3 linked regions of the Homo sapiens genome follow. The protein of the gene in region 1 interacts with the protein of each later gene in a biochemical or structural test. Each region holds a gene or a part of one and is shown in the gene's direction. Other genes may lie near its edges.

The links.
Region 2: the proteins of UBE2L3 (region 1) and RNF111 form a complex in vitro, tested with the Homo sapiens proteins (one study listed by BioGRID).
Region 3: the proteins of UBE2L3 (region 1) and XIAP form a complex in vitro, tested with the Homo sapiens proteins (one study listed by BioGRID).

What each region holds. Positions count from the first base shown.
Region 1 is NC_000022.11:21,591,633-21,595,285, forward strand, and holds part of UBE2L3 (ubiquitin-conjugating enzyme E2 L3), read left to right. Parts: intron 1-1,228; coding exon 1,229-1,324; intron 1,325-3,653. UniProt on the Homo sapiens protein: Ubiquitin-conjugating enzyme E2 that specifically acts with HECT-type and RBR family E3 ubiquitin-protein ligases.
Region 2 is NC_000015.10:59,074,547-59,078,199, forward strand, and holds part of RNF111 (E3 ubiquitin-protein ligase Arkadia), read left to right. Parts: intron 1-1,407; coding exon 1,408-1,669; intron 1,670-3,653. UniProt on the Homo sapiens protein: E3 ubiquitin-protein ligase. Required for mesoderm patterning during embryonic development. Acts as an enhancer of the transcriptional responses of the SMAD2/SMAD3 effectors, which are activated downstream of BMP.
Region 3 is NC_000023.11:123,901,551-123,905,203, forward strand, and holds part of XIAP (E3 ubiquitin-protein ligase XIAP), read left to right. Parts: intron 1-3,653.

The sequences.
Region 1 (3,653 bases):
GTGTGATGGAAGTATGAGGTGCAAGGATCTTTTGGGCTTGATGTGGGGGCTGATAGGGAGCCCCCAAGCCACTGTGAGTTGAAGTACCACGTAAGGAGGTTCTGGAGGGTGCTGGAGCTGGGCCAGAGGAAGCAGCCTGGCGAAGGAGGCAGGGCTCAGCTGGATGGTGCTCGGGCTGCAGAAGAGAAGGTGCCTGACAGGTGTGGAGGCGGCTTTTGTGCCACTGGATGGGAGGCCGGGCTGAGGCGGGTAGAGTGGCACTTCATGTGTCAGAGTGGAGGAATGTTGGCGAGGCTGGTGTTCTGGCAGGAGGGCATTGCTGGGTGGTTTGGGTTATAGCGCCTGCCAGGCATTCACTGAGATGTTGGAGGCAATGGGAAATGTCAGGCTGGTGCACAGTTGAAAAACAGGTGACAGACAGTTCTGAAGACATCTCAGGCAGGACCCTGAAGTCGTAAAGTTGTGCTTTCTGGGTGAAATGGCACTTGCTGCATTGACTGTTTATACAACAATAACCCCACATATTTGCAAGGGGTCCTGTTGCCCACAACATGGCTTCCCTTTCCTTTTCTGCACTCTGGGTCTGTTTTGCAGCTGAGGAAACAGGCTCAGTGAAGGTTTCCCGTCCCCACCCCCCCACTCCCACCCCAGTCCCAGACTGGATGGTTCTCTTTGCTGTGTGCCCATGTTGAGGTGGAGTCCTTCTGAAATCACACTTATAGCACTGGGTAGAAAACTGGATATGCGTTTGTGTCTGGTTTGTTCCCAGTCCCCAGTTTTATTCATCTTTAGCTTCTCAGCATCCGGTGCATAATCAGTGCTTAATGAATCTTGATTGGAAGGTATCAGGTGTAGAGCACCTCAGGATAGCTCCTGCCACATGTCTGCCCTATGCAGGGTGCTGAGGGATTTAAACAGCCATGGTGACCAACCCAAAGAGGAGGTGGTACGTCTGCAGAAGCATGGTTCCCCCTGTCCTATTCAGGGGGGTTCACTGAGGTGGGGGCTTGTCTTGGTCTGGGGCATGGGGAGAGGCAACAACCTTGCAGAGGGGACCGCCATGGCAGCTCCATGCCTCCTTAACCACTCCAAGCACAGTTTAGTCCTCACTGTCCAATTTTGTCATTAGCATTTTTGGCACTTGGTTTAATTTGAGGGCATCAGGAGGGATCTTAATATGTGGTGCTTTCCCCTATTTGACACCCCTTTATGCTTTGTCAATCAACAGGAGCTTGAAGAAATCCGCAAATGTGGGATGAAAAACTTCCGTAACATCCAGGTTGATGAAGCTAATTTATTGACTTGGCAAGGGCTTATTGTTCCTGTGAGTATTGAACACTTCCACTTCCTACCAGATTATTCTTTAAGGTGATGTGTGTGCTGTTGGGCTTGTTTTTCTGCTCCTTAGTAGGCTCTTAGTCTAGGCAGCCAGCAGATGCACAGAAGTGGCTGTCGCTCTAGGGTGATAAGGTAGGGAGTGTAGCCTTGGGTCCTGAGTAGAGTCACATCTTGGCACTCGTTTTGTCAAATTCAGGGAGTCCTGAGCTTTGCAGATCTGTAGACACAGAGAAAAGGAGTGTGTCTGTGCTCCTGCTCTTTCCTGACTTCCCTGCGCCTGGCCTGATGGATCAGCAGGACCTTCTTCTCTGAGCTCCTCAGGAGGGGACAAGCATTCCCCTCTAGATATTTTGCTTTCTCTCTTGGTTTTGCATTCATGTCTCTAACCCTTTGGATACCTGTATTTCGGGCTTTATTCCTGGTCCCCTCCAACCTGTGCCTTCCATTTGTCTCAAGTCCCTTTTCCTAATTGCCCACATGTTCCCCTCACCCCATGTCTTTTCTGGGGCTTATGCCTCCAGTGTCTGCCCCCACAGCCCAGCTCCCCCATCTCACAGTCTTCTGCCTTCTGATGGGCTCAAGGCCCTCCTAACGATGGCTTTCCTTAGCACCCTCTTAGTGCCTACTCTTTTCTGCATCCTTTGATCCCCTCCCCTTCAAGAGGCTTGTCTTATAATTAACTCCAGTTTGCAATCCCCCTTCCTCTCACTCTCCTGAAACCACGTCACACCCAGCCCACAGGCTGCCCCCACTGTTGTCACACCTCTAGCTCGGCAGTGCTGGCATCATGGCCCTTGCTTGCCTCCTGAGCTTTTGGAGCACGGGCAGCATTCCAGCCCCCAGTCCTGTGACCAGCCTGCCACTCGCTCCTGTTCTGCCACTCCTTCCTCCTCACTCTTAAACATGACTCTTGTTGGTCTCCTGCTGTTCTCCTGTTCTGTTTTGTCTCGGGACCCTACTACTTTCGGCATCATAGATGATTATGCCAGACATGAAGGATTCCCACACCTGTCTCCATTCCTGCCTTCTCCCCGGAAGCTGCACCATCTGTCCACCAGGCGGCCTCACTTGGTCATTGTGTAGCCTTCAGCTACCTCAGCTCACACCCTTGTCCTGCGTGAGTGCCCTCCTTTCCTGTTCTTCCTCATCCACTCACCTTCTCTGTTCCTTTTCATTCCCACTTTGCACATCTGAGCCTCTGGCCCTTGCCCTGTGCCTGCCGCTGTCCTGTATATAATTTGTTCTCATGGATGGATTGGCTGCTTTGCCAAAGCAGAGCATGGAGCATGCTTCCTCCTGTAGATGCTTCTTCCTGATGCTGGTTATAAGGTCATGAGCATGGAGCATGCTTCCTCCTGTAGATGCTTCCTCCTGTAGATGATTTCTCCCTGTAGATGCTTTCTTCCTGATGCTGGTTATAAGGTGAGCATGGAGCATGCTTCCTCCTGTAGATGCTTTCTTCTTGATGCTGGTTATAAGGTGAGCATGGAGCATGCTCCCTCCTGTAGATGCTTTCTTCTTGATGCTGGTTATAAGGTCATGCTTTTTTTTTTTTAAGTCCCTGAATTTGATCAGCAGTTATTGGATTTGTAGTTTATTTCCATAATCATTTGGATAACTAAGGAAAGATATGCTTTGTAATGATTTAGTATGCTCAGAATGTTTAAATCTGGGAGCTTCCAGTCTGATTTTGAAGATGAGTCCTTTAGATTTCTTTAGGCTTGATGGTGTTAGGGCTCAGGGCAAAGGGTGTGGGTGGCAGAGACACCTCTGCATGGGAGGGGTTGGCCTGTGAGTGCAGCCCTTGCCTACTCTAGGGACCTGAAGATGGCCGGGACCATCTGACCTCTTGTCCCTTTTCTAATTGAGATTGTGTAGTCTACTGAGCAAAGAAATGAACAGTTAATCTGTGGCTCTTTGGAAAATGATAAAAATGAATGGAATGGTTTTAAGTGGTAAGGCTTGGGCAGTCTGGCCCTGAGAATTTAGTGGCCTGAGAGCCTGCTAGCCAGCTCCACGGGTAGATTGCTGCTGGGCATGCTCTGCCCCAACTCATGCAAAGGCCTCCCTCTGGTTTCACGCTGGCAGGGGCTATGGAGCAGTGGGCTAAGATCTTACTAGGGCAAAGGTGGAGGCTGGCTGGTAGAATCCAAGTGTGCTTGGGCTGAGGCTCTGGGGAGCTATCCAGGCCAAAGTTTCACCTTGGAGACGGTAAGCAACAGCCAGGGCTGCTCTTGTCCCTGTGTATACCACTTCTTCTCGGTCCTCTCCCTTGCTTTCTTCCAGGGCCCCTGGGTTTGTATGAGGAATGTTTC
Region 2 (3,653 bases), on another chromosome or scaffold:
AGCCTCCTTGCCTCCCTCAGCCTTCATAGAATTGAAGAGTTAGGGCCTTGCTCTGGCTTAGGCTTTGGCTTAAGAGAATATTGTAGCTGGTTTGATCTTCCATCTAGATCACTAAAACTTTCTTTAGATCAGCAATAAGGGTGTTTCAGTTTCTTATCATTTGTGTGTTCACTGGAGTGCTTTCAGTTTCTTTCAAGGATTTTTCCTTTGCATTCATGACTTGGCTAACTGGTGCAAGAGGCCTAGCTTTTGGCCTCTCTGGGCTTTTGACATGCCTTCCTCACTAAGCTTAATCATTTCTCGGTTTTGGTTTAAAATGAGAGATGTGCAAATCTTCCTTTCACTTCAATACCAGAGGCCATTAATTGGCCTAATTTCAATGTTGTTGTGTCTCAGGGAATAGGGAGGCCCAAAGAGAGGAGAGCAGGGTAATGGGGAAACATCTGGTCAGGACACACATGTTTATCTGTTAAATTTGTTGTCTTATATGGGCACAGTTCTTGGTGCCTAAAGCAATTATAATAGTAACATCAATGACTACTCATCAAATATCACCATAACAGATAAAATAATAATGAGAAAAATGTAAATATTAAGAGAATTACCAAAATGTGACACAGACACAGAGTTTCCACATGCTGTTGGAAAAATAACTCTGATAGACTTGCTTGACACAGTGTCGCCACAAACCTTCAATTTATTAAAAATAAAACAAAAAACCCCGAACATCTGCAAAGCACTAAATGTGCCTATAAAATGCAATAAATATGCCTATAAAAGGAAGCAGTGCTTTAACTTTTTTTATTCTTATGTTTTTGAACAAGTGAAAGCTTTGAGTGGCAAAGGTAATTCATGATTTAGTCTGAAAAATCTTATGTCCATTGTTATTTTGAATAATGTAGATTTGTTTATTAGCACTTTAATTGAATTCTTGCTTTATACAGTTTGGAACTTGGGGCAGACAAGATTTTTCCTAGAACCTTAATATTTTCAGTAGTGTGATAGTATGTTTTCTCAAGGAGTCCTAAAGTACTAGTCACAATGTTGGGATAAAGGAGAATATAGAAGTATGATTTTTAAAGTTTCTAAGATGTATTTGTTATAAGACAAAAAGATTTTAATATATTAAACTTTTGTTCATCTTGTGATAAAATCTTATGCTTGATTTTTAAAAATTGGTTTAACTGTAAAACCACTACAGTTTTCACAATCCAGGATACACTTGTTATATTCAAGATAACCAAGTATTTTGTTGGTGCTCACTGGTTCTTCATACTAAGAATCTTCCTGGTTTCAAACTAATTTAAAGATTATGTTTTTTTGGTTATATTAGGAATACTTTTATAATATAACATGAAATATTTGACCAAACTTTAGAAAGATAAAATATACTTCCTTTTTATCTAGCAGGCATTGCCAGTGGACCTGAGCAACAGTGGTATCAGAAGTCATGGAAGTGGCAGTTTTCATGGAGCATCTGCATTTGACCCCTGCTGCCCTGTTTCTTCCTCCCGAGCTGCAATCTTTGGCCATCAGGCCGCTGCTGCTGCCCCAAGTCAACCTTTATCATCAATAGATGGCTATGGATCAAGCATGGTTGCGCAGCCCCAGCCCCAGCCCCCTCCACAGCCCTCTCTCTCATCATGTCGACATTACATGCCACCCCCTTGTAAGTATATACTTAGTGGACACAAAATCTAGAGTCATGTCAATGAAGCATTTTGTACTTCCTTATGAAATAACCTTTAATCCCAGTTCTTAAATTTTTAGTATTTACTTGGCTTAAGAGTAGGGTATATTTTTTCCCATGTTAGTATTATGTAATTGAGGTGGATTGAATGGAAGTTTTAAGGAATTTAGATTTGTTCTTTAGTATAGCTGAAGAAATGTGAAAGTTGAGTAGTATTTCTAGGCACAGTAAAGTAAATTTTTAAGAATTCTCAAGCAGTTAGCTGAGACATAACAGCAAGCTTTGGGAGTTGTAAAAGGATTTTTATATTCATTTGATGCAGGCAATTAAAATATAACCATGGTTGGGCATGATGGCTCACTCCTGTAATCCCAGCACTTTGGGAGGCCAAGGCAGGAGGATGGCTTGAGGCCAGGAGTTTGAGACCAGCCTAGGCAACATAGTGAGACCCCGTTTCTATAAAAATAAAATAGAACCAGCCATGCCTTTTCTAAAGAAATTGAAATTCGTTAGATATCACAAGAAATGATAAATACTCTAAGGCTATGTAACATATTTACTATTTTGTTAGATCATAAGCTAATAATGAAATGAAAGCTTAATAAACACTTGGCTGATAAACACCAAAAATTCATGCTGGAAATGAACCAGGAAGTCAGCAAGGAAATTTGTGTTTTGTTTTGATTACATGGCAAGTGGTAATTTTCACTTACATATCTTCTTGGATTTTTTCTTCTACTCCAGTCATTTAAAAAAATCTGCATCGTGCAGACGCAGCTGGAATCAACCCAGAATCTGTACAGTGAAACTGGTGATATATTATTTACCTTCTCAGTAATGCAACTTAAAATTTAAAGTATAAATTGGAAAACATTTAGCAAGTTTTTACAAAGCATTGACCAATGGGCCAATTCTTTGTATGAGCACCAGTGTGATGCATGGCCTATTTTGTAATACTTGATGGTATTCATTTTTGATTGATCATCTTTTATTTGAAATTCAATATGCTTAATTTTCTGCCCCTCCCCTTTAAAAATAATATACTGAAGCAGTTTATGAGTAAGTTCATTCCTTTCAAAATGTCCTAATAAATACATGTTTTAGATTCATTTGTTATATTCTAAAACATTCAGACTGTGCAGTCATATAAAATGAGAATTTAAAAGCTTCCTCGCACAGCTTACTAATCTTAATATATCAGAGGTAGTAACTGTTCTATAAAAACTTTTAGAAATTTTCTTTGTACACATAGATAGGTATATGTCTTACCTTTTAAAAATGGGAAATCAAACATATTCTACTTCTTGTTTTTTGTTTTTAAATTTAACAGTATATTTTGATTTTTGCATATTAGCACATAAAAATCTAGCTCATTGGTTTTTAATACCCCCATAATATCCATTGTATATTAAATCAGTCTTCTGTTGATGGACATTAAAGTTGTTTATGGTTGAGTTTATGTATAGTTTAACTTCCTAGAAATGTGATTGCTATGTCAGAGGGCTAAACTTTCAGATAAATACTGTTAAGTTTTCTCTCCAAGGGGCTGCATCAATTTACACACCTCATTAGGAGTGTGTTAATGAGAATGAAGGTAGGAAATTTAAATTGTATTATTTTCTGTTAGAGACATTTTGATAACTCTGTTTTGGGCTTCTTTTCCTGAAGGAGTGTGTGTATTCTCTCCCCAACTTGCCCGTGCTTTTAAAAAACATTTCCCGTATGCTTTAGTTCACGTGTGAAACATGTGGTTCTTAAACCTTTTTTCATCCAGAATGAACTGGGGAAGACAATATGGCATAGTAGAGCACTAGCTTTAGAATTGGATAGATTCGAGTTGACCTCCCAGCTCTGACTAATTAGCTTGGTGACTTTGGATAAGTTATTTAATCTCTCTGTCCTTACATTCTTTGCACTTGTAAAATGGGAATAATTCCTATTGGCTATAAATTGTGATACTTGG
Region 3 (3,653 bases), on another chromosome or scaffold:
ACTGCTAAAAAAACTTAAACGTTTACTTATTTTTGACGCATTTAAGATCCTTTTGATCTTTAAGATATTTCAAGTGCTTTTGAAACACTATTCAGATAATCGTATAAGTTATGAAACAGTATGAACATTAATGATATTTAAAATTATATTCATTGATGTAAGAATCAATGGAAAGCTTCCAATTTTTTCCTTATAGATGCATTTATTTAAAACTTACACAAGCTCCACTTATCTTGGTGGTGGTAAAATAAACCCTTTAATTGTCATCTTTCTTTCTTTTTTTAATTTTTTATTTGTTTTAAGACGGAGTCTCACTCTGTCGCCCAGGCTGGAGTGCAATGGCACGATCTTGGCTCACTGCAACCTCCGCCTCCCCAGCTCAAGCGATTCTCCTGCCTCACCCTCCCGAGTAGCTGGAATTACAGGCATGTGCCACCACGCCCGGCTAATTTTTTGTATTTTCAGTAGAGACAGGGTTTCGCCAAGTTGGCCGGGCTGGAATTTTTCTACTATAACAGAAACACAAGCAATTGTGTCATTTTTTTCCTGCATCTTAAACACGCGCTTAATTGTTTGGCCATAAATTGTTAGTTTTCAAACCTTAATGTATCTGCAGCAGAAGGGTTTAGCAGGTTGTAATAGGAAGAGATCAAGAGACTGTGCATTAGGGAGAGTGTCTTTTCTCTATCTAACAGGAGTCAATGGGCGCTCATATTATCACTGAGACTACAAACTAGGATGGTGTGGGAAGGAGAGCCTAAGGGTTGGAATTCATTTGAACTCTCCTCAGTCTCACTAAATTGAGAGGCAAGTAATTGATACAGGCTCTCTACTCATGCTGGGACTGCTGCCTATTTGTCTTCCCAAAAGCTGATGAGGAAAGACTGGCACTAAGAATCTTTTAATTTTATATAAAATAAGGATGGGGCTAACTGAAGTGAAGCAGGTGAGGGTTATTAGAGAAAATATAACATTGTCACTTACTGAGAAATCCTAGATTTAGTGCTAAACTTTTTTGCCAATGGCTGTGTAACAGAGAATGCCCTAGTAAAAGGTCTTGTAAAAATAGTACCGAATCAGTATCTTTTTTTCTTTCTTTGAAAAAATTATGTAGTGTAAGATAAAGCCCTTTATTTAGTATATGTACTAAAGTACTTATTTTAATCTTTATGTGTATATATATTACTGTATATAATATAAAAATCAAATAACCCATATTCATTTCTTATCTGTCTTTCCATATGAATCTGCTCTAATAGTAAAATGAATAACATCAGTTTATTCTAGAAGAGGTTTTAAATAATTACAAATATTAGCAAATAACATCAAAAGTTATCTAGCCTTTATTGCTCATGTGCCAGTAACCTTCTGACCTAGAAGAGGGCTTTGTGGGGAGGAGAAGGGGAAAGGCGCTGTAGAGAAGTATGTAGAATCCAGTAGTTACCTTTAAGCCAAGAGGGAAGTAATTGCCAGTGGTAAACTACTGGTCTGAGGGGAAAAGATCTATGCCCAGAATATCACCATCTCAAGTTAGTGGCTTTATACAAGGATGAAATAATATAGAAAAAAATGAGATGATATGGTATCACAAACAATCAGAACCAAAGGAACCTTAAAGATTATTTTATAATTTTTTTTTTTTTTTTTTTTTTTTGGAGACGGAGTTTCACTTTTGTTGCCCAGGCTGGAATGCAATGGTGCAATCTTGGCTCACTGCAACCTCCACCTCCCGGGTTCAAGCAATTCTCCTGCCTCAGCCTCCTGAGTAGCTGGGATTATAGGCATGTGCCACCACACCCTGTTAATTTTGTATTTTTAGTAGAGACGGGGTTTCTCCATGTTGGTCAGGCCGGTCTCCAACTTCCAACCTCAGGTGATCTGCCCGCCTCGGCCTCATAAAGTGCTGGGATTACAGGCATGAACCACTGCACCCAGCCCATTTTATAACTTTTATGACCTTAATTGGGAACCTGAAGTACAGATGGGCTGTTGCCTAGGATCACGCCGATAGTTGGGAATAGAATTCAGATTTCCTGACTTCTGGTCCAGTGTTTTGGGGTTTGTTTCAGTTTTTTTTTTTGTTTTGTTTTTTGTTTTTTTTAGATTTTAAAAAATTGTGATAAAATACACATACAGTTTACCATCTTAACCATTTTTAGTGTATGGTTCCGTAGTGTTAAGTACATTTACATTGTTGCACAGTCAACCTCCAGAACTCTTCATCTTGCAAAACCGAAACTCTACATCCATTAAACAGCCAGGCGTGGTGGCACACGCCTGTAGTTCCAGCTGCTTGGGAGGCTGAGGCAGGAGGATTGCTTGAGACCAGGAGCTCAAGGCTGCAATGAGCTGTGATTGCACCACTGCTCTCCAGCCTGGGATACAGAGCAAGACCCTATCTTTAAAAAATAATAATAATAATAAAAACATGTTCATTAAACAACTCCCCATTCCCTCTCTTCCCAACCCCTGGCAACTACCATTTTACTTTTTGTCTCTATAAATTTGACTACTCTAGGTGTCAGTATTGTTGTTGCTTTGTTTGTTTGTTTGTTTCTTCCTTTTTGTGGAGAACGGGGTCTCACTATATTGCTCAGGCAGGTCTCGAACTCCTGGGCTCAAGCTATCCTCCCGCCTCTGCCTCCCTGAGAGCTGGGATTATAGGCGTGAGCCACCGCGCCCAGCCTGTTTGTTTGTTTTTAACTCGTTGTAGCATTACATCTAAAAGTAATGTGGAAATTACTTGTTCTCCTTTTGATTTTTTTGGCATGAAATACACACTTCATTCTGACTTTTTTTGGTGTTGATGCTTTCTTATAATATAAATCAGCTTATAGTGCCGTTTCTTTACTTGTATTTTTTCCTCTGCCTTGAGTACGTTTTCTCTATCTGTATACCTAGTCCCATTCCCCACTCTACCCCCAACTCCCTGAATCTACTTTGTGAACTCATGTTTCAAGGTTCAGCTCAGAAGTCACTTCTTTCAAGTTTTCTCCCGCACCCACAGCAGAGTTAGGAGCTCCTTCTTATCTACTCCTGGTGCTGGTAGAGTTTTGTTTTGTTTTATTTTGTTTTGTTTTGTTTTTCTTGAGACAGGGTCTCGCTCTGTCGCCCAGGCTGGAGTGCAGTGGCACACAATCTCAGCTCACTGCAACCTCTATCTCTCAGGTTCAAGCGATTCTGCTGCCTCAGCCTCCCGAGTAGCTGGGATTACAGGCATGCGCCACCACACCCAGCTAATTTTTTTTGTGTGTATTTTTAGTAGAGATGGGGTTTCACCATGTTGGCCAGGCTAGTCTTGAACTCCTGACCTCAAATGATCTGCCCGCCTCAGCCTCCCAAAGTGCTGGGATTACAGGCGTGAGCCACCAGGCCTGGCTGAGCATTTTGCTTTTTACACTATTTTGGGACTGGTTTCTGCCCTGCCCATTAGACCAAGCTTCTTAAGGGTAAGTGCTTTATCTTCTTATCTCTGATGCATTCCATGTTTGAGCCTATAGTTTTTATTATGCCCAAGAGGGTACTTTTTAAGAAGAAAGAGATTAAACAATCCTTTCCTCTACCCCCTAGCCAGAGAAACCTTTCTGAGACATAGATGTGATCATATCTGTCTCTAGTTTAAAACCCTTCACTGCCTCCCAGGACCCTTGGGA